Homo sapiens: one gene and its partners. The protein of the gene in region 4 purifies or fractionates together with the protein of the main gene of each other region. This does not show direct contact. Each region holds a gene or a part of one and is shown on either strand. Other genes may lie near its edges.

Region 1 (3,138 bases), on a different chromosome or scaffold from region 4:
CAGATTCATCAAGATCCTCGATAGTGTCCTGCACCACCTGGTACCTGCCTGGGACCACACACTGGGCACCTTCAGTGAGATTAAGGTGAGCCGACCCAGCCAGTGCTGGTCTTGGCATTTCCCCTTCCTGCTCACGTAGTTGTTCATTCCTTAGCAGAGTTCCTAAAATCTACTCTAGGGCAAGACCTTTGCTGGGTCTGGGAACATAGGAAGAAAGCCAGAACAAATGGTCCAAATTTAGTGTTTGGGAGGCTGTTCCCCAGCCTCCTTGGTATTCCAGAGTGTGTGGAATACCCAAGGGCTATTGACAGCACAGGCAGGGCAGTTTGCGTGAAAGGTACATACAGGGAGTTACCAGCAGCTCAAGATGTCTTGAGAAAAGTGTGCCAGTAGGTGTGAGTATGACAGAGGGATGAGGGTGGAAGGATGTGGGCAGGAGACAGGTCCTGGTTGCAGAGGGCCCTGTGGGCCAGGCTGTGAAGCAAGGACTTTGTCCCAGGGTAGTGGAGCTGTTGGAAAGGTAAGGAAGGTAATGACAGTATTAGATTTTTTTGTTTTAGAAAGCTCTCCCTGGTGGCTGAACTAAGGAGGGGACTGGAGACAAAGACAGGGATGGACTAGACTTGAACTGAAACGGTGGAATTGGATACAGGCAGAGGGGAAAGTTCCAGGGCCTGGACGGAGGCTGACTGCCCACTCATTCCTGCTCTGGCCACCTCTCCTCACTAGCAAGTGAAGCAGTTCCTACTGCTGTCCCGCCAGCGGCCAGGCCTGGTGGCTCAGTGCCTGCGTGACTCTGAGAGCAGCAAGCCCAGCTTCATGCCACGCCTATACATCAACCGCCGTCTTGCCATGGAACACCGTGCCTGCCCCTCTCGAGACCCTGCCTGCAAGAATGCAGTCTTCACCCAGGTCTGCACCACCTAGGGTCCGACTGAGATAGGATCAGTCAAGGGCCAAGGGGGCTAGGCCAAGAGGGACCTGAACAAGTTCTTGGGGCAAGTATAGGGCCAGGTCTTGCTTTCCTATGACTCCTTTCCTCCTTGCCTCCAGGTATATGAAGGCCTCAAGCCCTCTGACAAATATGAAAAGCCCCTGGACTACAGGTATGGCATGAGAGTGAGGGACTTACTCGGGACACCTGTTTGTGCACACAAACACACACAAACACACACACACACACACACACACACACACAACTGCTCGAGGCACCCCTCGCCATGACTGCTTTTCCCAGGTGGTCTCTGAGCTGATGAATTGTGCTGCACCTGGCCCCACATAATGACAAATCTGCCCACGTTTTTTGCAGGTGGCCCATGCGCTATGACCAGTGGTGGGAGTGTAAATTTATTGCAGAAGGCATCATTGACCAAGGTGAGGCCCTGAGGGAGGATCTCAAGGGTCCTGCTTGCTGCCCTATCAAAGTGGTAGAGGCTTTTCACCAGCTAATGATGATGGGGGACCTATTCATTACCCCATTATGGGAGCTGGGCTCTTGAGTGCCCAGCTGAGGGCATCTGTCATTTCAGGGGGTGGTTTCCGGGACAGCCTGGCAGATATGTCAGAAGAGCTGTGCCCTAGCTCAGCGGATACCCCCGTGCCCCTGCCCTTCTTTGTACGCACAGCCAACCAGGTAATCTCCGTTTCCATCTCTGCAAACCTCCCAGGTGCCAGATTGAGCTAGAAAGGGGGCAGAGGAGGGGGCCAGATTGAGCTAGAAAGGGGGCAGGCACAGTGGCTCACGCCTGTAATCCCAGCACTTTGGGAAGCCGAGGCGGGCAGATCACGAGGTCAGGAGTTCAAGACCAGCCTGGCCAATGAAGTGAAGCCCCATCTCTATAAAAATAAAAAATTAGCCGGGCGTGGTGGCACGCGCCTGTAGTCCCAGCTACATGGGAGGCTGAAGCAGGCGACTCGCTTGAACCCAGGAGACGGAGGTTGCAGTGAGCCGAGATCACGCCACTGCACTCCAGCCTGGGTGACACAGTGAGACTCTGTCTCAAAAAAAAAAAAAAATAGAAATAGGGCAGAGGAGGGACTGAGTTGCTCAGGGCAACCTCTGGGCAGACAGGGAGAGGAGGAGCCACTGTGCATTTGAAGGGATCATTTAGTGGAAAATGTTCCCAGTGGAAAATGTTCAGGGAAGTCTTTGGGCCAGGAAAATAGGGTGTATCTCATGCCACACTCACAGCTCTGTCTCTGGGGCAGGGCAATGGCACTGGTGAGGCTCGGGACATGTATGTACCCAACCCCTCCTGCCGAGACTTTGCCAAGTATGAATGGATCGGACAGCTGATGGGGGCTGCCCTTCGGGGTAAGGAGTTCCTGGTGAGTAGCCTTATCCACACCCCCGTCCGATCAGCCCTGGCCCTTGGAAGGAAAGGCCAGCCAAACCTGGGCAGCTCAGGGTGAGAAGACAGTGGGGAGTGTTTGTCACACAGGTCCTGGCCCTGCCTGGTTTTGTGTGGAAGCAGCTTTCTGGTGAGGAGGTGAGCTGGAGCAAGGACTTCCCAGCTGTGGACTCTGTGCTGGTGAGTAGGACCTGGAACCAGTGTTTCCTCTGCCCAGCCCCTAAAGGTTGGTCCTCCCTAAGGCTGTTCTGTACCTTGTTCTTTCACCACACACAAGATCCCTCTCCAATCCATCCACTCCCATGGCTTCAACTACTGTCTGTAGACTCGTGACCCCTAAAATCCTGACCTCTAGCCCCAGCCTCTCCTAAGCCTGGGGCCATATATGTATCTGTACCCTCGACGTTTGCCCCAAGATGGCATCTCAGGCTCAGTGTGTTCTTTATCTTCTCCGAAGACTACTCCCCTCTAGGGCTCCTGCCTCAGAAGGGCACCATGTCCCACTCCTCCCCATCCCAAAGCCCACAGGGCCATCCTTCACCCCTTCTTCTCCCTCGCCACCATATTCTTAAGTCTTCCTCTGTAATCTGTTTGCTTTTCCTGTCTCACTACTGTCTCCCTGCCTGGTTGAGGACACCTTTCCTCCTTAGCTAATCACTTACTAAAAAGCTGGTGTCCCTGTCTCCGTTCTTACCCGTTTGGTCTCCATGCAGCCACAGTAATTCATTTCACTCTCCTTATTTAAACTCATTGATGGCTCGGCCCTGGGCTTAGGATAGAATGCAGA
Region 2 (3,500 bases), on a different chromosome or scaffold from region 4:
CAGAGAGGTTGGTGGGACAAAACCTCCTTGTCTCCATCTCACATGAGGCCAATGACAGTTAAGAGACTTAAATAGAGTTGCAGAGTCATTGTGCCAGAGATGAGACTCAGACCCTAGAGTCCCAGCTCCTAGTTTAGACCTCTTTGCCGTCTTTCAATCCATCGACAATTTGAGCAGTCATACTCCGTTTTGGAACTGAGATGATAAAGACATACATAAAACATGTTCCTGCCCTTCAGAGCTTACATCTCATTGGGAAAATAAAACCAACACATATAAATCAGGACAAGTATTGTTACTGTGGTGTTCAGAGAAGTGATGGCTGGGGTGAGCAGGACAGGTGAGTGGTGTAGGAGTCAAAGGAGAGGTGCATAGATGAGGGTAGAGTAGTCAAGGACAGCTTCTCTGCAGATGCTAACACTGGAGCTACATCTAGAAGCCCAGGAGGAATTTTTGAACTGAGGAGTGATGTGTTCGAAGAAATTCCTTATCATTTGGGGTTGAGAGTAGTATCTTCTGGAGTATCAGTAAGACCTTGAACCACACTGGTGAGGGTATGGGTAAGTGTCAACACATGAATCAACCATGAGTACTTATGAATCCTCCTTCCTCTGTCAGCTTCTTCCTGTGAGACCTACGAGTACCCACAGCGTGGTGGAGAGAGTGCAGGCCGGTCTGCTGAATCCATGAGTGATGGAGTTGGCTCTTTCCTGGTGAGTGTGGGTTAACCCAAGGGTCCTCAGGCCGGCCTGGTTAGGTAAAAGGTCACACCTTATGGAATTAAAAGCACAACCCCAAAAGATTGATGGCGTCTCCATCTTAGGACCCTGCCCAAGTTCTTGTCTCAGTTCAGAACCCTGCGTTGAGTCTTTGGACAAGTAAGATATAAGTATTCTAGTCTGGAAGAAATGTATGTGCTAAGGTAGACTGGATTACAAGGTTCACCAACCTTGTAGGTAAGCAGAGGATCTAGAATGCAATAGACCCAGGCTGCACGGTGGGGGAACCTCTAAGACAGCAACCTTACCCACGTGGCCTCACATGCAGGAGGGAGGCTGCAGTGTGAGACTCCAGGCAAGGGTGGTACTCACAGTCAGGCTAAGTGGCAGAATTATGGCTTGAGTGCAGGATCCCAGGCTGCCCTCTGGAAGATGCTAACCGCAGTTCTCCAAGGTGTCAGGCAAGAAGACCAGGGCCTGGCTTCAGGCCCACTGAAAAGACAGTGAAATCAGGTAACCAAGGCAGAAGCAGCTTAGTTGTATGTCACGGCAGATAGAGCAAGAGTTAGAGGAAGGCTGGGATTGCTGTATCACACAACTCTGTAGAAGCTCTGACTGCAGCTTGGTGGTCCCCTAGGTGCCTGGAGTGAGCCCCAGGTACTTAGAAACCTGGACTGGGGAAACACAACTGGCCCCAGACCTCACCTTCCAGAGCCAGGACTCCTAATATGCTCCTTGTTCTGATCCAGGGCCTGAGATGCTGACCTGCCAGTGGTGAGTCTGGACTTGAGGTGGAGGGCAGGTCCTGAACCAAACCTACAGTCTATGGACTATGCCACCCACAGTGTTGGTCAGGCGTCCAGAAAGCCAAGTGGACCCAGTCACCAAGAATATTTTATACTCTAGATTTATCAAAAATTATTAGTGGATGCCAAAGGATCGTGAAGGCTTGAAGGGGCCCACAGACCTCATATATTCTTGTCTCCCACTCTGCTTCCTTTTTTTTATTTTTTATTTTTTGAAACAGAGTCTCACTCTGTCACCCAGGCTGGAGTGCAGTGGCATGATCTTGGCTCACTACAACCTTGGCCTCCCAGCTTCAAGCGATTCTCGTGCCTCAGCCTCCTGAGTAGCTGGGACTACAAGCATATGCCACCACGCCCAGCTAATACTTTGGATTTTTAGTAGAGAGGAGGTTTTGCCATGTTGGCCAAGCTGGTCTCGAACCCCTCACCTCAAGTGATCCACCTGCCTCAGCCTCCCACTACTCTGCTTTCTTATTTGGTCTCCCCAAGGTCTCCCTTACAGCTTCAAAGTATAGCTAACCCAGTCATGACTTGTCTTGCCTCATTTACAAAGTCTTACCCCCTTCCTGTTTCTTCTTGCTAGTAACAGCTGTATTTCTTTCACTGTTCCTCTCCCTAGCCAGGGAAAATGATTGTGGGCCGATCGGACAGCACCAATTCTGAAGACAACTATGTGCCCATGAATCCAGGTTCTTCCACCCTGTTGGCCATGGAACGAGCAGGTGATAATTCCCAGAGCGTCTACATCCCAATGAGCCCAGGGGCCCATCACTTTGACTCACTTGGCTACCCATCAACAACCCTTCCTGTGCACCGAGGCCCCAGCAGAGGAAGTGAGATTCAGCCACCCCCTGTCAACCGCAACCTCAAACCTGATCGGAAAGGTAAGTCCATTCTTTCCCCTGTCCCATCTCTGGACAGTGGCTAGGGACTCTTTCCATTTGCTTAGGGGTCATGTGGATCCTGGACTTGAGAGGTGTGACTTGGGGCAAATCATGTAAAATCTGAGTCTCAGTTTTCTTATCTGTGAAATGCAGATGGTAATTCCTACCTCCCAGGTTTGCTGCAAAGGAGAGCATCTAGGATAGTACTTTGGTACATAGCAGGCGTTCAGTAAAGTCAGCTTTGTGCCCCCTGCATGTAGACCAGGCAAGGTCCTCGTCTGCTACAATCTCACTCTCCTGGCATTGGATCAGTGGCAAGGATTCAAAGGGAGGAGTAGGATAGCTAGGCAGAGATAGCCCCCTGTGGGTCTGGCCAACAGGGAATTCAAATCTTAGCATTTGGAACTGAAGCCCTCAAGCCCTTATGGCATCTACCTTCCTCCACTGTGGCTTGCACCGACCTGGCCAGGAGCAGCAGGGAGTAGTCACGGTGACCATCTATACTTCAAATATGGTCTCTTGGCTGGGCGCCATGGCTCACGCCTGTACGCCTGTAACCCCAACACTTTGGGAGGCTGAGGCGAGTGGATCACCTGAGGTCAGAAGTTCGAGACCAGCCTGGCCAAAATAGTGAAACCCCGTCTCTACTAAAAATATAAAAATTAGCTAAGCGTGGTGGCAGGCGCCTATAGTCCCAGCTACTAGGGAGGCTGAGGCAGGAGAATCACTTGAACTCAGGAGGCAGAGGTTGCAGTGAGCTGAGATTGCGCCGCTGCACTCCAGCCTGAGCAACAGAGTGAGACCCCGTCTTAAAAAATACATATATGTGTGTTAATATATAAATAGTATATATTTTTATAAATATTAATATATTAATATATAAATATATTTTATATATAGTCTTTTATTTTTAAATGAAGTCATAAATTGAGGGAGAAAAATCTGTTGTCAAACCCTGTGTCCCCACTTTTGATTCTGAAAATATAATTACCATAGATACAGCAGAAAGAATATATAATTTGGAATCTGAAGACATGACTTCAAGGCTCATCAATATGGGCAAAGATTATACAACCTCGCTGAGCGTCAGT
Region 3 (3,500 bases), on a different chromosome or scaffold from region 4:
CAACAAATATCACCTGAACACCCATAAGCACTGAATGCCTCAGACCATTACCAGTTTAAGAACTTAGCCCTTTTTGTAACATCAGAGAGCAGGTAAAATGATTATGAATTAAACCCTAAAAGAGACTTTCTAGATTATAGGCACTGAAAAAAAAAAAAAAGAACAAAGGCTGGGCGTGGTAGCTCACACTTGTAATCCCAACACTTTGGAAGGCTGAAGCAGGAGAATCACTTGAGCCCAGGAGTTCGAGACCAGCCTGGGCAACACAGCCAGACACTGTCTCTACAAAAAATAAAAATAAAAATAAGTTAGCTGGGCATGGTGATGCATGCCTATAGTTCCAGCTACTCAGGAGGCTGGGGTGGAAGAACTGCCTGAGCCCAGGAGTTCAAGGTTGCAGTGAGCCATGATTGTGCCACTGCACTCCAGAATGGGCCACAGAACAAGACTTTGTCTCAAAAAACAAAAATATATATACACATATATATAGTGACAAGATAATCCCAGGGTACCAGTTTAAAAAGTATTTATGAAACTTAAAAGATTCCAAATGTTGCCCTGGGTTAGGAATCAAAGAAATAATTAAATCCAGAAGCAAACAAAAATCCTTACTTCAGGCGGGCACAGTGGCTCATGCCTGTAATCCCAGCACTTTGGGAAGCAGAGGCCGGCAGATCACCTGAGGTCAGTAGTTCAACGCCAGCCTGGCCAACACGGGGAAACCCCGTCTCTACTAAAAATATAAAAATTAGCCGGGCACGGTGGCAGGCGCCTGTAGTCCCAGCTACTCGGGAGGCTGAGGCAGGATGATGGCGTGAACCTGGGAGGCGGAACCTGCAGTGAGCCGAGAGTGCGCCACTGCACTCCAGCCTGGGCAACAGAGTGAAACTCTGTCTCAAAAAAAAAAAAATCCTTACTTCAGTCAATATTCCTGCTCATTATCCAAATCTTCCCCCATCTTAATTTAAATGTTGACATCTTACTTCCTTTTATCACATTTTTACTACCCAGCTTTTGATATAGTTAATAAAAATGATTAAATTAAAAACCTAGCAAAATAATTAAGCCTTTCTGCATATACTCAAAGTATGTAAAGTCCTATTAAATCTTTAGGCCGGGTGTGTTGGCTCACACCTGTAATCCCAGCACTTTAGGAGGCTGCGGCTCACTTGAGGTCAAGAGTTCCAGACCAGCCTGGCCAACGTGGCGAAACCCTATCTCTACTAAAAATATAAAAATTGGCTGCGCGTGGCGGCATGCGCCTGTAGTCCCAGCTACTCAAAGAGGCTGAGGCAGGAGAATCACTTGAACCCAGGAGGTAGAGGCTGCAGTCAGCCGAGATCGCACCACTGCACTCCAGCCTGGCAACAGAGCGAGACTTCATCTCAAAAAAAAAAAAATCACAAAACCCAAAACATTCAAGATAGACCCAATGAGTCTCAAGAAGAGGCAGGACCTTACCTATTTCCTTCTCACTTTCAAAAGCTGTCATGGGTTGAATATCCTCATTTACTTCATGTTCTTCAAAGACCATTTCTGGCTCAGTTATATACTTAGCAGTAGGAAAAGATGCGATTTTCTTTCCCTTATAAGAACCGACATGTGTTCGAACTTCATTCCTTCTGCTTGGAAATATCTCGATGTATCTATGTCAAAGCAAAAGTAAACAGGCACAAATGGTGCAAAGTAACTTTATACTGAACTCATTTAAAATAAACATGTATACATTATATTTCCAACAGCTTATGAAACACAGGTGTCAAAAGATAACAGGTAGGGAAAACTAATAATGCATACAGATAGTAGCCCATGAAAATATACAACAGAGTAGGTCACTGATTTAAGTTTTTGCATCAAGGTAACACTTTTTCTTCACATACATTTTAATAATATTTTCTACTCTGTTTTGCTTCATGAGAACAACTATGCTTAAGTTAATTGTGTATACAGAAAAAATTAATCTCATAAGGGTTTTTTAAATTGCTGGTTAACAATCTCTTGAAGCTCTGAAATTCAATTCTGTGCAAATTAATCATATCTGTATAAGATATTAAAAGTCACAGTAAAAGAAGAGCTAACTTCCCCAGAACTTCACTAAAAGGCTGAGAATTCAAGAACTAAGTATCAATTATGACTTGCTATCACAGGAGGGGACTATCTATTAAACCCAAGCTTCTGGAACAATTTTTTTTTTTGAAACTTGGGTTTCTTGCTGTCACCCAAGATGGTGTGCAGTGGTGTGAACATGGCTCACTGCAGCCTCAACCTCCTAGGCTCAAGTGATCCTCCTGCCTCAGCCTCCTGAGTAGCTGGGGACTACTGCCACCTGCCACCACACACTGCTAATTTTTTTTTTTTTTTTTTGAAGCAGAGTTTTGCTTTTGTTGCCCAGGCTGGAGTGCAATGGCACGATCTTGGCTCACTGCAACCTCTGCCTCCTGGGTTCAAGCAGTTCTCCTGCCTCAGCCTCCTGAGTAGCTGGAATTACAGGCGCCCGCCACCACGCCCAGCTGATTTTTTGTATTTTTAGTAGAGACAGGGTTTCACTATGTTGGCCAGGCTGGTCTCAAACTCCAGACCTCAGGTGATTCACCTGCCTCAGCCTCCCAAAGTGCTGGGATTATAGGCATGAGCCACCATGCCCAGCCCACACACTGCTAATTTTTTTATTTTTTATTTTTGTAGACATGGGTTCTTGCCATGTTGCCCAAGTTGCTCTTGAACTCCTGGGCTCAAGTGATCCTCCCACTTCGGCCTCCCAAAGTGCTGGGATTATAGGCATGGGCCACCGCGCCCAGCACAGTTTCCTTTTTCTTAACATGGCCTTCTAAACTAAGAGTTATAAAACTAGCTTGTGTTTACAAATCTATAAAGATTAGATGAGCACTACTTCTTTAAAAAAAAAACCTTTGAGCCTGGACAACAAAGTGAGACACCATCTCTACAAAAGTTTTTTTTTGTTTTTTTTTTTAATTAGCCAGGAGACCAGGTACAGTGGCTCACACCTATAATCCCAGTACTTTGGGAGGCTGAGGCAGGTGGATCACTTGAGCTCAGGAGTGTGAGACCAGCTTGGGCAACATGCAAAACCCCGTCTCTACAAAAATACAAAAATTAGCTGGGTGTGGTGGCATGTATCTGTAGTCCCAGCTACTTGGGAGGCTGAAGTGGGAGGATTGCTTGAGCCCAGGAGGCCACAACTGCAGTGAGCTGTATCACACAACTGCACTCCAGCGAGGGTAACAGAATAAGACTCTGTCTAAAATTAGCCAGGCATGGTGATGCATGCCTGTGGTACCAGCTACAAGGAAAGCTGAGATGGCAGGACTGCTTGAGCCCAGAAGGTCAAGGCTGAAATGAGCAGTGTTTGTGGCACTGCACTTCAGCCTGGGTGACAGAGCAAGATCCTGTCTCAAAAAACCAAAAAACCTTTGAACCACTTCTATCAGTAGATCCTGAAACACTGGCTTTGGAATGGCTGTTTTGTTTACTTCAAAGGA
Region 4 (4,094 bases):
TTTGAAACACAAGGTAAAATCTTTGTACCAATTTTTTTCCTAGACTCCTGTGGTCTACAGCCTGTGATCACTCATTGAGTAAAAAGTTTAAAACTTAGTTGGGTTCTTGGCCGGGCGCAGTGGCTCATGCCTGTAATCCCAGCACTTTGGGAGCCTGAGGTGGGTGGATCACCTGAGGTCAGGAGTTCAAGACTAGCCTGGCCAACATGGTGAGAAACCCCATCTCTACCAAAAATACAAAAATTAGCCAGGTATGGTGGCAAGCACCTGTAATCCCAGCTTCTCGGGAGGCTGAGGCAGGAGAATTGCTTGAACCCGGGAGTTGGAGGTTGCAGTGAGGCGAGATTGTGCCACTGCACTCCAGCCTGGGTGACAGAGTGAGATTCTGTCTCAAAAAAAAAAAAAAAAAAAGTTGGGTTCTTATTTTAGACATGAATTTCACTATTGCTTTAGCTAAAAGGATAAGTTGAAGATCCTTTTTAGATTTTTATCTAGGGGCCCAGAGAATCAATGTTACTGGGCAACAAAGTTATGTACCACCGAGGCAGCTGACATCATGATGCTGCATACTCCTCCATTCTACACTAAGCCCAGATACAGAACCAAACATAAGATCCTTCACAAAAGCAACAAATAAAGACAAAGGACATGAAAGGTACTGAGAATGGCAACAGGTAAAAAGCACTTAGAAACTGCTGTACCAATGCCCTCGTTACAGAAATATACCAAGATCTACTGATCAAAAAATAGCAACAAATTCTTCCCCAGTTCAGGCTTTATTTTGCAGCAAATAATGTTATTAACAAAGAAAATGTCCAAGATTGAGACAAATGTATATAAATGTATATAAAGCTCCACAGTTTTATCCTAAAAGCCTGGATGTCCATGAGATATTGAAGATGCTTAAAGATGTAAAACTTGTCTCAAATTTGAAGGAAAAGAAATAAAGGGAATTCAAATTTTTACAAAATGCAAATAAAACACTTGAAAAATTCCTTCTTCCCTTGGCTTCATTTAATGACCCTGCACAGGCTCCTAGGTTTCCTGCTCTCTGACCTGTGCACTGATGTCCAGATGCCCCTCCCTTAAAGGTGGATGTAACTCCGCATTCTATCCTATTCTTTTTTTTCAATCTATACATTTCCCTTCTGAGATGTGACCTACTTCTGTGGCTTCAATGACCATGCATTAGAAAGACATCTCAAATGCAGGCCGGGTGCAGTGGCTCACTCCTGTAATCCCAGCACTTTGGAAGGCCGAGGAGGGAGGATCGCTTGAGGTCAGGAGTTTGAGACCAGCCTGACCAACATGGCGAAACCCTGTCTCTACTAAAAATACAAAAATTAGCCAGGTGTGGTGGCGCATGCCTGTAATCCCAGGTACTCGTGAGGCTGAAGTGGGGCGATTCTTCTACTTCCCAGGTACTCGTGAGGCTGATGTAGAAGAATCGCTTGAATAAGGGGGGCGGAAGTTGCAGTGAGCCGAGATTTTGCAACAAAATCTGTTGCAGTGAGCGACAGAGTAAGACTGTCTCAAAACAACAAAAACAAACAAAAAACACCTCAAACGCAACAAATCGAAATAACCCCTCTACCTTTGCTTCACAATCTGATCCTCCTTCAATGTTCTGTTTCAAGGGATATTGCTATCCATTGGTATTGTTCCCAACATATATTTCTAAGCTTATTGCGGCCAGGTCAGCAGCATCTCTAGCTATTCTTCACCTCACACTTCAAGTATTCCACCATTACTTTTCACAGCACTCTGGTGCCTATGACAGTACTTCTAACACTGCACTGTAATTGCCTGGTTATCTATTTGCCTCACTAGATGGTAAGGACTAACTAGTGTCCATGAGGACAAGGACTTTGTCTATAATGTTAACATTGAATCCAATGCTTGACAGTATTTGGCTCACAGTAATCACGCAAATATTTTTCTAATACCCTAGATCGATGCTTCCTTCATTAAAAAAAAAAAAAAGAAAAAAAAAGTTCAGCCTCCCTTTATTATTTTTTTTGAGACGGAGTCTCGCTCTGTCACTCCAGGCTGGAGTATAGTGGCGCGATCTCGGCGCAAGCTCCGCCTCCCAGGGTTCACGCCATTCTCCTGCCTCAGCCTCCCGAGTAGCTGGGACTACAGGCACCCGCCACCACGCCCGGCTATTTTGTATTTTTAGTACAGACGGGGTTTCACTGTGTTAGCCAGGATGGTCTCGGATCTCCTGACCTCGTGATCCGCCCACCTCGGCCTCTCATTGTGCTGGGATTACAGGCGTGAGCCACCGCGCCCGGCTCAGCCTCCCTTTAAAGAGAAAACAATTTACTTTAGAATCCCGGAAATATTTAACTGGGGTCCCCAGGCCCCAATCTAATAAACATTGATTTCAGAAGGAGTTTTAAAAGTTTTATTCTTGTAACTGGCAAGGACTTAGAATACCACAGAAATGAAAACCCCAATTGTAAAAAGCAATCAAGTACATCATTTCAGGAACCACTGATTTTGTTTCAGGTACTGTACTAGTTATAGTTTATTAAAATCACTGGGCTTCCTCTTACCCGTGGGCCTTCCGAACGCACATGCTCCACTAAGTGCATCTTGGAACGTCTCCGGCGTCCTCCCACCCCCAACACACACATTAGGCGAAAGAAGAAACTCGCTTACCAGGAGTGCAGAGATAGTGGTTCCCGCTGGCGCAAAGAACAGGGACCCTGGAGGACGAAGGACTCCGACGTACGGACGCCCAGGGATCCGCGCCGAAGCTAGCACGCAGCCTACCCAACAGTCTACACAGCCGACCAGAGCGGTCGCTGGGGCTCAGCCGGAAGTTCCGCCCTCTCCCTTCCGGCGCTGCTTTTTACGTCACAGCACGCAAAGAACGCTTTCTTGGCTAAAAGAAGCGCCTTAGAGGAGACGGCTGTCAGTAGGCAACTGGGTACTCGAAGACTACGCTCTCAGTTGTCACGGAGTTGTAGCTGTGTTGTGTTGTGTTTTCCTCCATATATCCTAAAAACTTCTTCTGGGCCGGGCCAGTTGGCTTACGCCTGTTATCCCAGTGCTTTGGGCGGCCGAGGCGGGCGGATCACTTGGGGTCAGGAGTTTGAGACCAGCCTGGCCAACATAGTGAAACCCCGTCTCTACTAAAAATACAAAAATTAGCCAGGTGTGGTGGCGCGCGCCTGTAATCCCAGTTGCTCGGGAGGCTGAGGCAGGAGAATCGCTTGAACCTGGGAGGCGGAGGTTGCGGTGAGCTGAGATCGCGCCACTGCACTCCAGCCTGGGCGACAGAGCAAGACTCTCTGTCTCAAAAAAAAAAAAAAAAAAAAAAAAAAACTGTTTCTAATCCTCTTTTCAACCTACTCTCTGTTTGGGCCCTGTATTTATAAACATTTGCTGACAGAGTACTAAAATAAAGTATGTTTTTTTCACACGTCTTCTTACTCAGCTTCAAACTCCTTGACGCTAGGACTTTAAACTCCTAATCTTTTTGACCAGTTTATCACCAGTACCTGGCACTATGCTTGGAACGTGATAAGCCACGGTAAGTTTCTGTCTCCTCCTAGCTCATTTGGAAAGTTTAATGTGAAATGAAATTAAAACACATTTGTAAATTGGTGGCCTTTGGGGCCAATTCAGCCTCCACATATATTTGTAACCAAACACAGAATGAACATATTCTGCAGCCATTCTACTCCTAGTAATATACCCAAAGAAATTGAAAGCAGAGACACAAACAGACACTTGTACTCTAATGTCATTGTAGCATTATTGATAATAACCAAAAGGTGGAAGCAACCCAAATATCCATGAACAGATGAATAGATTAAAAAATGTTGCATGTACATACAATGGAATATTATTCAGTCTTAAAAAGGAATGAAGTTCTGATACATGGTACAACATGGATAAACTTTGGAGGCATTATACACTGAGATAAGCCAGGCACAAAAGGACAAATATTGTATAAGTCCACCTATATGAAGTGCCTAGAATAGTCAAATCATAAAGAAAGAAAGTAGAATAGTGTTTACCAGGGGCTGGGGAAAGGGAAGAATGGGCAGTTACTGTTTAATAGGTATGAATTTTCAGTATGG
Region 5 (3,500 bases), about 52 Mb from region 4:
CCAGCCTGGGCAACATAGTGAGACTTGTCTCTAAAAAAAGAAAGAAAGAAAGAAAAGAAAAGAAAAGAAATAGGTCTTCCAGAATCCCCCCATGTGTCCTGAATCAATCATAACCCCTCCTTTTCTCTTAGAAGGGACCATTATCTGACTCTGCTTATTTCCTAGCTTTTCTTTATAGCTCTACTGCTGTGTTTGTATCCCCCTTACGGGTTTGTTCTGCCTGTTTGAACTCTATCAATAGACTCATACTATATGTATTCTTTTGTGTCTTTTTGCACTTAACACTGTGTAAGAGTCACCAGGTGGTTGGGTATAGCTGTAGCTCCTTTGTTTCCATTGCTATATAATATTCCATTGTGTGACTCTACCACAATACATCCTGTTGGTGGTGGTATTTGGTCTGTTTTCAATTTTTGGCGATTATGTATATGGCTACTATGAGCATTGTATGACTGTCCTGATGCACGAATATGTGCACTTCTGTAGGCACGTATTTAGGAGTGCAATTGCTGGTTCATAGGGTATGTTTGTTTGACTTTAGTGGTTTTACCAAACTGCTTTACAAAGGGGAGTTTGCCCTCTCCTAGCAGTGCTCACGTTCTTCATATATCCACTAACACTTGTTAGCTCTAGACCTTCAGAGATGACTAGCAGGTGGGTGGGTGGTTATAGCCCCCTTCATCTGTAAAATAGCTGAAATTTAAATAAACTGTTTGATAAGCCTTTTTTTTGAATGTATAGAATACAAAACTATTCCCTTATATATCAGCTTAATACATTTTTTCATATGTAGGCTGTTGCACTTCAGGCAGCCAAGCTGAGTAGCTGGATGTCTAGCCAGAAAAGCAGGGGTAGGATCTAAGCCTGCCTATCCTCTAGCCCCTCCTGGTATGGTCTCTGCCCCTAGCTTGGCCTGAGCCAGGTTGGGGTCTCCCAAAAGCAGCCCCTATGTTGTGGGGAAGTGGAGAGTAGTACAGCTAAGCCAGACCCCATTGTGCCCGCAGGTTAGAGCCTGGCAATGCCGTTTGGGTGTGTGACTCTGGGCGACAAGAAGAACTATAACCAGCCATCGGAGGTGACTGACAGATATGATTTGGGACAGGTCATCAAGACGTGAGTGCCGGGCCTGTCAGGCAAGGCTGGGTGGGCTGGTGAGCAGGGGCTAGGGAAGTGGCAGTGGAGTGCAGCTGATGCTAAGGCCAGGCCTGAGTGGGTGCCTGTCGGCTGCAGTGAGGAGTTTTGTGAAATCTTCCGGGCCAAGGACAAGACGACAGGCAAGCTGCACACCTGCAAGAAGTTCCAGAAGCGGGACGGCCGCAAGGTGCGGAAAGCTGCCAAGAACGAGATAGGCATCCTCAAGATGTGAGTTTGAGGCCTGGGATTGGGGCGGGGTGGGAGGCAGCAGGGAAGGGCTTAGAGGGCAAGTGGCCTCAGGCAGTCCCAGCCTCTGGCCAATTAGTCTGCTGTGGCCACTGTGGTGACCACAGCCTCTCCCAGGGGTTCATCCAGCCCTAACTACTGGCTCCCCTCCCTGTCGCCAGGGTGAAGCATCCCAACATCCTACAGCTGGTGGATGTGTTTGTGACCCGCAAGGAGTACTTTATCTTCCTGGAGCTGTGAGTGTGGGTCTGGGGACCCAAGATTCCCCAGCGCCCAGGGCTTTCACCTGTCCCACCCTCTGCAGCTAAGGAAACCCCCTTTCTGGACCCTTGGCGTCCCAGGTCCCTGTGCCTTGCTCAGCCAGCTGCCTGGCGTAGGCAGCTCACCCAAGTGCTCCTGCCCTACCCCTGATTCTGCCCACGCCAGGCTCAGGGGCTGGTGTCCCTCAGGGCCACGGGGAGGGAGGTGTTTGACTGGATCCTGGACCAGGGCTACTACTCGGAGCGAGACACAAGCAACGTGGTACGGCAAGTCCTGGAGGCCGTGGCCTATTTGCACTCACTCAAGATCGTGCACAGGAATCTCAAGGTGAGGGCAGAGCCAGAGTCAAAGGGCCAGTTGGCAGCTGGGCTGGTGCTGGGGTGGGCAGCACCTCAGGGCCTTGGTCTAGCCTCCAAGGTCCTCATGGTGTCTTCTGCTCACCCACATGCTATTCTCACACCACAGCTGGAGAACCTGGTTTACTACAACCGGCTGAAGAACTCGAAGATTGTCATCAGTGACTTCCATCTGGCTAAGCTAGAAAATGGCCTCATCAAGGAGCCCTGTGGGACCCCCGAGTATCTGGGCAAGCAGGGGGTGGGGCAGGGGCAGGGGGATAATGGGGGGCAGCCTTCAGGGAGCTGCTCTGGGCAGGGGGAAAATGTGCTCATCTCAGGAAGCTGGTGTGGATGGTACTGGACCTGGCTAGGCCTGATACTGACCAGCAGATGGGCGCTGTGTTTGTAGCCCCAGAGGTGGTAGGCCGGCAGCGGTATGGACGCCCTGTGGACTGCTGGGCCATTGGAGTCATCATGTACATCCTGTGAGTGGACAGATGGACAAGCAGGCTTGCAGTCAGATGGGGTGGGGGCATGTGTCTGTGGCCTTTCTGTGTGACCCTTCCCCCATGCAGGCTTTCAGGCAATCCACCTTTCTATGAGGAGGTGGAAGAAGATGATTATGAGAACCATGATAAGAATCTCTTCCGCAAGATCCTGGCTGGTGACTATGAGTTTGACTCTCCATATTGGGATGATATTTCGCAGGCAGGTGAGGAGGTGCCTGCCCAGCACTTGGTAGAACGCAAGGGAGTGGGGAGGGTGTCCTGCTCTCATCTTCCTCTGTGGTATTCTGCTTCTGTCCCCCAGCCCATTTATCACCTCTAGACATTGAGATGGGGTGCCCATGACTATCCCCTTCTTGGTTTTGTCCACAGCCAAAGACCTGGTCACAAGGCTGATGGAGGTGGAGCAAGACCAGCGGATCACTGCAGAAGAGGCCATCTCCCATGAGTGGTGAGCAGGGTCCAGGGGAGGGTGGGAGAGGCCAGGGTCCCCCTCACACCCAGCAGCCCCATCTTTGAGGCCTGGAAGGGGTGCAGGTACCTAGAGCTCAGGGCAGCCCAGAGGCTCTGCCTGGTAGTCCCTGGATGCCACATAGAAGGGCTGAGCAGAGTCTCCACAAAGGCTCATTCTCTCAGATCCAGACACACTTGCACCCTTTCCAGGATTTCTGGCAATGCTGCTTCTGATAAGAACATCAAGGATGGTGTCTGTGCCCAGATTGAAAAGAACTTTGCCAGGGCCAAGTGGAAGGTAAGGCTTGGATAACTCCCTTCTTGGCTCTATCCCAAGTATTGCTTCTGGCACTCAGTTTCTTGCCTGCATCACACCCCTGCAGCCACACACAAGCTTTTCTCAGGCCATCAGGTGTGGGTGTAGCCACTGTGATTACCTTAAGTAGGAGTGCTGAGCAGCTGAGTACTTGGCCCTGGGGTGGATGGAGGTGGCCGGGGGTACTATGGAAGGAGTTTGGTTTGGTCACTGCCAAGCAATGGATCCAGCAAGCCTCACCCTTAG
Region 6 (3,485 bases), about 49 Mb from region 4:
GGGAAATTGGGGACAGGATGCTCATAGGCTCAGGAAACATATCACCCATTTAATCCTGCATATGTGCAGGTGCAGAGTGAGATTGCTGCACAGAGCAGCACCTTCCATATGACAGTCTTAGTAATTCTGTAGGTTGGTACAATTTTTTTTTTCTTTTTAAAAATGTTTTCACAGAGACAGGGTATCGCTATATGGCTTAGACCAGTCTTGAACTACTGGGTTTCAAGCAATCCTCTCGCCTCAGCCTCCTGAGTAGCAGGGACTGTAGGTGTGTGCCACCATGCCCCACTTGGTACAATTTTTTGTACCCTTTTAGAAACTAGGAAACAGGCCCAAGAGGTGAGGTGACATTCCTGAAGTCATAGCCATGAGAGGGAGGGCCTGGTCTTGTCTGGCTGACCTCATTGCATGTGGCCTTCCTAGCACATCTCCTTCCCTTTCCTTTCCCTTCCACTTTCTCCATTGTACACATAGGGAAACCAGGGCAGGTAACATGGGGCCTCTCAGCCCCATCTGCCTCCTTGGGACCCCAGAGCCCATGCCACACAGTGCTCTGCTCAGCACCCTGCTGTGGGCCTCAAAGCCAACTGCAGCCTCCTGGGAGCAGCCAGGGACTTGGGGTGGCCACGACCACATCCCCAGAAGGAGCAACCTGGATAATGGCCCAGAACCTGACATCACGTCCTGACTGTCGTAATTAGCAATGTTCCCTGGCTAGAGCCAGCAAATGTCATTATATGGGCTTGCGGGCAGCTGAAATCTGATTAGAGGGGCCTCACTCTCCCTGGGCTGTGGGAAGTGCACAGAGCTGGCAGCCCGATCGGCAGAGGGGCTCCCCCTCCCACTAATGTTCCTGAGCCCCAGTCCCAGCTCTGGGCAAGGTAGAAAAGTCAGCATCCATGGCCTCAACCCCCTAGTCTGGCCATACAGAGCCAGCCCCTCTGGGTTGGAGTCCTCAGTGCCCACATGGTATCCTCACACATAATCCCAGGGAGGCTGAGAGATGAGGCCAGGGGGCAGGGCAGGGCAGCTGAGAGGAGCAGAGGAGGCGCTGAATTGTGGGGGGCCAGACAGTGGTGTTCCTGCACGGGTTTTGAGCAAGTGGGAGGCTTTGCTTTGTAGAGCATCCCAAAAGCAGCTGTTCTGGGGCTAGGCGGTGAGGAGTTGAGTGACTGCTGCCAGGGTTCTAGCATGGCCTTGTGTCTGATGGGGCTTAGTGGTGAGGGCCTGGAGTAGTCACGGGCTCAGTATACCTGGTGGGCTATAGGAGATAGTGTAATGTAGGCAGGTGTAACCATGAGGAGGAGCTCCAGCCAGGGGCTCTGCCTTACCCTAACTGCGTGACCCTGGGCAAGTGACTTCTCTCTGGGCCTGTTTGACCATCTCCAGCACTGGAATAAGAGGTGCCATTGTGGGGCGTTTCTGAGGCTCACAGGGCTAGGTCCCCACAGAGTGCTCAGGAGCCATAGCTGCTGCAGGGATCATCATCCCCATCACTGCCTCCCTGCATCTCCTTCCTCTAGACCTCCTGCCCCCCGAGGTCTGCAGTCTCCTGAACCCAGCAGCCATCTACGCCAACAACGAGATCAGCCTGCGTGACGTTGAGGTCTACGGCTTTGACTACGACTACACCCTGGCCCAGTATGCAGACGCACTGCACCCCGAGATCTTCAGTACCGCCCGTGACATCCTGATCGAGCACTACAAGGTGAGACGGGGGTCCTTGCCACCAACAAACCCAGGGCTTGGAGGCTGGCCAGACCCACCTTGGCCTAAGCTCAGGGCTGAGTCGTGGGGCTCCCCTGGCCCTCTTGCCTGGCAGCTGCCCTGGGCAGGTGGCTGGATTGACCCCCTGGGGTGGCCACCCAGCCAGCAGGTCTGGCAGGGCTATTGGCTTAGGCCTGGCCCCTTTCCCCCGGCAGTACCCAGAAGGGATTCGGAAGTATGACTACAACCCCAGCTTTGCCATCCGTGGCCTCCACTATGACATTCAGAAGGTGAGTGGCTGGACCTGTATAGGGGCTCCCTCCTTGGCCTCCTCTTGGTATGGTCATTACCCCTCCGTCCCATCCAGCTGGGGTTCTGGCATGGGCTGAAAGAGGCTGGCTTGGGGCCACGGTGAAACTGCCTCCTCACCATCCGTCCTGCCTCCCTGGCGCCCCCAGAGCCTTCTGATGAAGATTGACGCCTTCCACTACGTGCAGCTGGGGACAGCCTACAGGTCAGTCGGCTCTGCCCCAACCCCACCCCCGCCCCACCCTACACTGCTGTTCTGGCTCAGGACTACCTTGGACTGATGGTATCTTGGGCCTGCTCAGGGGCCTCCAGCCTGTGCCAGACGAGGAGGTGATTGAGCTGTATGGGGGTACCCAGCACATCCCACTATACCAGATGAGTGGCTTCTATGGCAAGGTACTCCATACCCCAGCAGCCAGCCTGCCCCATGGACATGTGCCCATGTCCCAAGGCAGATTTGGGGCCCTCGTCTCCAGCACTGAAGGGGTTGGGGTCCCAAAGGGTGTCTGAGACAATGGCCCCCTCCCCAGGGTCCCTCCATTAAGCAGTTCATGGACATCTTCTCGCTACCGGAGATGGCTCTGCTGTCCTGTGTGGTGGACTACTTTCTGGGCCACAGCCTGGAGTTTGACCAAGCACATCTCTACAAGGACGTGACGGTGAGGATGCTGGGCCTGCCCTCGGATGGCAGGAAAGACTAAGTCCAGCCACAGTGGGACAGCCCCACCTGGGCCCTGCTGTACCCTCATTGTCCTCCACTGCCCCCAGGACGCCATCCGAGACGTGCATGTGAAGGGCCTCATGTACCAGTGGATCGAGCAGGACATGGGTAAGTGTGGACAGAAGCCCTGCCGTGGCCGGCCTGAGCAGGTGGCAGGACTGACCCTCACAGACTCATCTGCCCCATTAGAGAAGTACATCCTGAGAGGGGATGAGACGTTTGCTGTCCTGAGCCGCCTGGTGGCCCATGGGAAACAGCTGTTCCTCATCACCAACAGTCCTTTCAGCTTCGTGTGAGTCCAGCCCCTGTGGATGGAGGGACAGCAGGGCCAGGGCTCTGGGTGGGGAGGGCAGGCACGGAGCCGCCCTCAGACTACTTGCCACCTGAAACTCCTCCACACAGAGACAAGGGGATGCGGCACATGGTGGGTCCCGATTGGCGCCAGCTCTTCGATGTGGTCATTGTCCAGGCAGACAAGCCCAGCTTCTTCACTGACCGGCGCAAGTATGGGCATGGTGGGGGTTGCAGGGCCAGGGAAGGGGAATAGAGGCCCCACCCCAATGAGGGGACTGAAGCAGGAGGCCAACCTGGCCCTTGCCCACTGCCCAATGTGCTTGGGGTGAGAACACCCCCTTGCTGGCATGGGTCCACTTGAGCAGGTGGGCCTTTACGGAGGAGGGATGGGGGTTGCCCGGCCCGTGGCCCAGCCACAGACTGGAAGTCATGCCCTTTACCTGCACCCCAGGCC
Region 7 (3,500 bases), on a different chromosome or scaffold from region 4:
CCTCGGCTTCTTAAAGTGCTGGAATTACAGGTGTGAGCCACTGTGCCCAACCTGGGTTTTGCATTTTAATAGTCACTTTGTAGGAAACTGGAAATAGTAGTTGGAGGAGCCTGTGATGGTGGAAAGGGCTTAGCCCCTGCAGGAGCTGGGGCCTCAGCATGGGGTCTGATGTTGGGTGCTACTCCTGTATGTGGGACCCCTGCTTCTCTTCTTAAAACACCTCTTCTCACTATGTCCTTCTCTTCTAGGAATGGATGTATATGGCTACCTACTGGCACGAGAAGGGCGGCTAGAGGATGTTGAGAACCTTGGATGCCGCCTTTTCAATATCTCTGATCAGCATGCAGAACCGTGGGTGGTTTCTGGGTATGATTATGCATTCTCTTTTCTCCCCAGTTGTCAGTAGATTAAGAGATAATGGTTGCTCTTGAAGAGAATATAAATTGAAAGCACAGGTTTAAGAGGTAATCACCTGGACAGGCATGGTGGCTCATGCCTGTAATCTCAACACTTTGGGAGACTGAGACAGGTGGATTGCTTGAACCCAGGAGGCAGAGGTTGCAGTGAGCCAAGATCGTGCCACTGCACTCCAGGTGGGCGGCAGAGTGAGATTTTGTCTCAAAAATAAATAAATAAAAATAAAAAGAGGTAATTACTTGAGGCCAGAAATTTGAGACCAGCATGGGCAATGTAGCAAGACCCTGTCTCTATAAATATATATATATATATATATATATATATATATATTTTTTTTTTTTTTTTTTTTTAAAAGGATAATCAGCCCTGGATTCAAATAATAGTTTATGACTCTGGATGCATTATTTACCTATCTAGGTCTGTATTCTCATTTGGAAAATGGGCTAATAACCTCTCCTTCTAGGGTTAAGCATTAACTGAGTTGGTGAATGCATTGTGCTTAGTACTGAGCCATCAGTGATGGGGCCAGAAGATGCTCCTTTGTTTATTAACCTGGCTTTACAAATTCTCTGAATGCCTCTCTGCTAATAACTAATATCCAGATCATAGGTTCTTTTTCATAATTTTTCTCTTCCATATCAAGATTTCCCCTTAAAAATAAATAGTGGATTTTTTGGTTTGTTTTGCTTTTCTACTAATATCTTAGGTTAAAACTATAAGTGTGGTTTGGAATAAGGATTATGTTCAGGGCCTTCAATATGATTTTTGGATCAACTTTCTTTGTAGTCTTCTCTTGGATAACTTCTGGGGTTTTTGTGTTTTTTTTTTTTTTTTTTTCTCCAGCTGTCACAGCTTCTATAGCAAACGCTACTCCCGGGCCCTCTATTTAGGAGCCAAGGCCATTCAGCTGAACAGTAATAGTGTTCAAGCTCTGCTACTTAAGGGAGCAGCACTTAGGAACATGGGCAGAGTCCAAGAAGCAATAATCCACTTTCGGGAGGCCATACGGCTCGCACCTTGTCGCTTAGATTGTTATGAAGGTAAGAAAGAAAACATAGGTGAATGGTGTGAATCCGTGGGTGTGGCAGCAGCCCTCAGATGGAAGGTTTCATTAGGCCAGCACTTCCCAAACTCTGTTAGAATAATCTGGGGAAGCTGGCCGGACGTGGTGGCTCACACCTGTAATCTCAGCACTTTGGGAGGCCGAGACGGGCAGATCATGAGGTCAAGAGATTGAGACCATCCTGGCCAACGTGGTGAAACCCCGTCTCTACTAAAAATACAAAAATTAGCTGGGCATGGTGGCTCACACCTGTAGTCCCAGCTACTTGGGAGGCTGAAGCAGGATAATCACTTGAACCTGGGAGGCGGAGGTTGCAGTGAGCCAAGATTGCGCCACTGCACTCCAGCCTGGCGACAGAGCAAGACTCCATCTATTAAAACAACAACAACAACAACAAAAAAACATCATCCGGGGAAGCTTTTCAATATCCTGACGTTGGGTCTCTCCAGTGTAGATGGAAATACATGGAATTGGGAATAGACATCGATATTTTTGGAGGTCCCCAGGGGTTACCAATGTGCAGACAGGTTTGGGAACCACTGCATTAGGCATTTTACATTTATTTAGGGCTTTCACTGGATTTGTCACCCCATACTTTCATAATCCATTTTTTCTGATTTTTTTTCTGGTTTTTGGTGAGGGTATAGTTGGGATGGGGTTTTTTTTTTTTGTCCTCCCACCGCTCGCCCCCATCCAGTGTGGCGTACTCATTAATATGAATCTCTCTGTGTCAGACACCATGCAAGATCACTTAGTTTGCCTATTTTTTTTCTCTTACTCCTCTTTTTTTTGAGACAGAGTCTCGCTTTGTTGCCCAGGCTGGAGTGCAGTGGCATGATCTCGGCTCACTGCAGGCTCCACCTCCCGGGTTAATGCCATTCTCCTGCCTCAGCCTCCCCAGTAGCTAGGATTACACCTGGCTAATTTTTTGTATTTTTAGTAGAGACAGTGTTTCACCGTGCTAGCCAGGATGGTCTCAATCTTCTGACCTCGTGATCCGCCCGCCTCGGCCTCCCAAAGTGCTAGGATTACAGGCGTGAGCCACCGTGCCCGGGTCCTGTTTTTTTTTTTTTTTTTTGAGACAGAGTCTCGCCCTGTCACCCAGGCTGGAGTGCAGTGGCATGATCTTGGCTCATTGCAACCTCCACCTTCCGGGTTCAAACCATTCTCCTGCCTCAGCCTCCCAAGTAGCTGGGATTATAGGCGCCCACCACCACACCCAGCTAATTTTTGTATTTTTTAGTGAGATGGAGTTTCACCATGTTGGCCAGGCTGGTCTCGAACTCCTGACCTCGTGAGCTGCCTGCCTTGGCCTCCCAAAGTTCTGGGATTACAGGCATGAGCCACCACAACCGGCCTATTTTTTTTATTTTTATTTGAGATAGAGTCTCACTCTGTCACCCAGGCTGGAGTGCAGTGGTGCAATCTCAGCTCACTGCAACCTCCACTTGCCGGGTTTAAGTGATTCTCCTGCTTCAGCCTCCTGAGTAGCTGGGATTACAGGCATACACCACCACACCCAGCTCATTTTTGTATTTTTAGTAGAGATGGGGTTTCGCCATGTTAGCCAGGCTGGTCCCGAACTCCTGGGCTTAAGTGATCTGCCCAATTCAGCCTCCTAAAGTGCTGGGATTACAGACGTGAACCACTGTACATGGCCTGTTAGGCCTATTCTTTTTCGTGGCCATCTTACCTTGGGCCAGAGTTAGTACTCGTGGGATAACTCCACATCCATATGATAGTGTTGGCTGTGGGAATGGGTCTGTTCATTGTGACCTCCAGAGTGGGCACAATCAGGGTCCAACTTTGTTTTGTTATGTAATATTTTAAGTTCATGTGAATTGACCCTGGGAGTTCAAAGGAGCTGTGCCAGTTTCAGCAACGTTTGGTGACTCAGTCACAGACATTAAAATAGATCTTACAAGATGCAGTTCCTCCAAAACATATTTTTATAAGCATTTAAAAATAAACCTAGGAGTCTAGGAGTGATTTGCTCTTAACAGGAAGATGAGTTCAAATT

Evidence for each region.
Region 1: the proteins of TRMT10C (region 4) and HECTD3 purify together in Homo sapiens (affinity purification with mass spectrometry; 3 studies listed by BioGRID and IntAct, with this or other methods). This does not show direct contact.
Region 2: the proteins of TRMT10C (region 4) and GAB2 purify together in Homo sapiens (co-immunoprecipitation; one large-scale study listed by IntAct). This does not show direct contact.
Region 3: the proteins of TRMT10C (region 4) and GRSF1 purify together in Homo sapiens (affinity purification with western blotting; one study listed by BioGRID). This does not show direct contact.
Region 5: the proteins of TRMT10C (region 4) and CAMKV purify together in Homo sapiens (co-immunoprecipitation; one large-scale study listed by IntAct). This does not show direct contact.
Region 6: the proteins of TRMT10C (region 4) and NT5DC2 purify together in Homo sapiens (co-immunoprecipitation; one study listed by IntAct). This does not show direct contact.
Region 7: the proteins of TRMT10C (region 4) and ANAPC7 fractionate together in Homo sapiens (co-fractionation; one large-scale study listed by BioGRID). This does not show direct contact.

Annotation. Positions count from the first base shown.
Region 1 is NC_000001.11:45,005,187-45,008,324, reverse strand, and holds part of HECTD3 (E3 ubiquitin-protein ligase HECTD3), read left to right. Parts: intron 1-3; coding exon 4-85; intron 86-729; coding exon 730-912; intron 913-1,053; coding exon 1,054-1,106; intron 1,107-1,309; coding exon 1,310-1,374; intron 1,375-1,529; coding exon 1,530-1,633; intron 1,634-2,208; coding exon 2,209-2,328; intron 2,329-2,441; coding exon 2,442-2,531; intron 2,532-3,138. UniProt on the Homo sapiens protein: E3 ubiquitin ligases accepts ubiquitin from an E2 ubiquitin-conjugating enzyme in the form of a thioester and then directly transfers the ubiquitin to targeted substrates.
Region 2 is NC_000011.10:78,222,321-78,225,820, reverse strand, and holds part of GAB2 (GRB2-associated-binding protein 2), read left to right. Parts: exon of another isoform or gene 1-618; coding exon 619-713; exon of another isoform or gene 714-749; intron 750-1,091; exon of another isoform or gene 1,092-1,211; intron 1,212-2,144; coding exon 2,145-2,409; intron 2,410-3,293; exon of another isoform or gene 3,294-3,500. UniProt on the Homo sapiens protein: Adapter protein which acts downstream of several membrane receptors including cytokine, antigen, hormone, cell matrix and growth factor receptors to regulate multiple signaling pathways.
Region 3 is NC_000004.12:70,826,391-70,829,890, forward strand, and holds part of GRSF1 (G-rich sequence factor 1), read right to left. Parts: intron 1,647-3,500; coding exon 1,462-1,646; intron 1-1,461. UniProt on the Homo sapiens protein: Regulator of post-transcriptional mitochondrial gene expression, required for assembly of the mitochondrial ribosome and for recruitment of mRNA and lncRNA. Binds RNAs containing the 14 base G-rich element.
Region 4 is NC_000003.12:101,560,574-101,564,667, reverse strand, and holds the start of TRMT10C (tRNA methyltransferase 10 homolog C precursor), read right to left. Parts: upstream 2,801-4,094; 5' UTR 2,665-2,800; intron 1-2,664. UniProt on the Homo sapiens protein: Mitochondrial tRNA N(1)-methyltransferase involved in mitochondrial tRNA maturation. Component of mitochondrial ribonuclease P, a complex composed of TRMT10C/MRPP1, HSD17B10/MRPP2 and PRORP/MRPP3, which cleaves tRNA molecules in their 5'-ends.
Region 5 is NC_000003.12:49,859,907-49,863,406, reverse strand, and holds part of CAMKV (caM kinase-like vesicle-associated protein), read left to right. Parts: exon of another isoform or gene 1-32; intron 33-1,004; 5' UTR 1,005-1,018; coding exon 1,019-1,113; intron 1,114-1,230; coding exon 1,231-1,362; intron 1,363-1,541; coding exon 1,542-1,616; intron 1,617-1,829; coding exon 1,830-1,968; intron 1,969-2,106; coding exon 2,107-2,227; intron 2,228-2,388; coding exon 2,389-2,464; intron 2,465-2,554; coding exon 2,555-2,691; intron 2,692-2,857; coding exon 2,858-2,936; intron 2,937-3,148; coding exon 3,149-3,236; intron 3,237-3,500. UniProt on the Homo sapiens protein: Does not appear to have detectable kinase activity.
Region 6 is NC_000003.12:52,527,373-52,530,857, reverse strand, and holds part of NT5DC2 (5'-nucleotidase domain-containing protein 2), read left to right. Parts: intron 1-1,523; coding exon 1,524-1,708; intron 1,709-1,922; coding exon 1,923-1,997; intron 1,998-2,165; coding exon 2,166-2,221; intron 2,222-2,318; coding exon 2,319-2,412; intron 2,413-2,546; coding exon 2,547-2,675; intron 2,676-2,784; coding exon 2,785-2,845; intron 2,846-2,926; coding exon 2,927-3,029; intron 3,030-3,139; coding exon 3,140-3,241; intron 3,242-3,482; coding exon 3,483-3,485. UniProt on the Homo sapiens protein: Promotes dephosphorylation of tyrosine 3-monooxygenase TH which decreases TH catalytic activity and leads to reduced synthesis of catecholamines including dopamine, noradrenaline and adrenaline.
Region 7 is NC_000012.12:110,379,709-110,383,208, reverse strand, and holds part of ANAPC7 (anaphase-promoting complex subunit 7), read left to right. Parts: intron 1-248; coding exon 249-366; intron 367-1,260; coding exon 1,261-1,457; intron 1,458-3,500. UniProt on the Homo sapiens protein: Component of the anaphase promoting complex/cyclosome (APC/C), a cell cycle-regulated E3 ubiquitin ligase that controls progression through mitosis and the G1 phase of the cell cycle.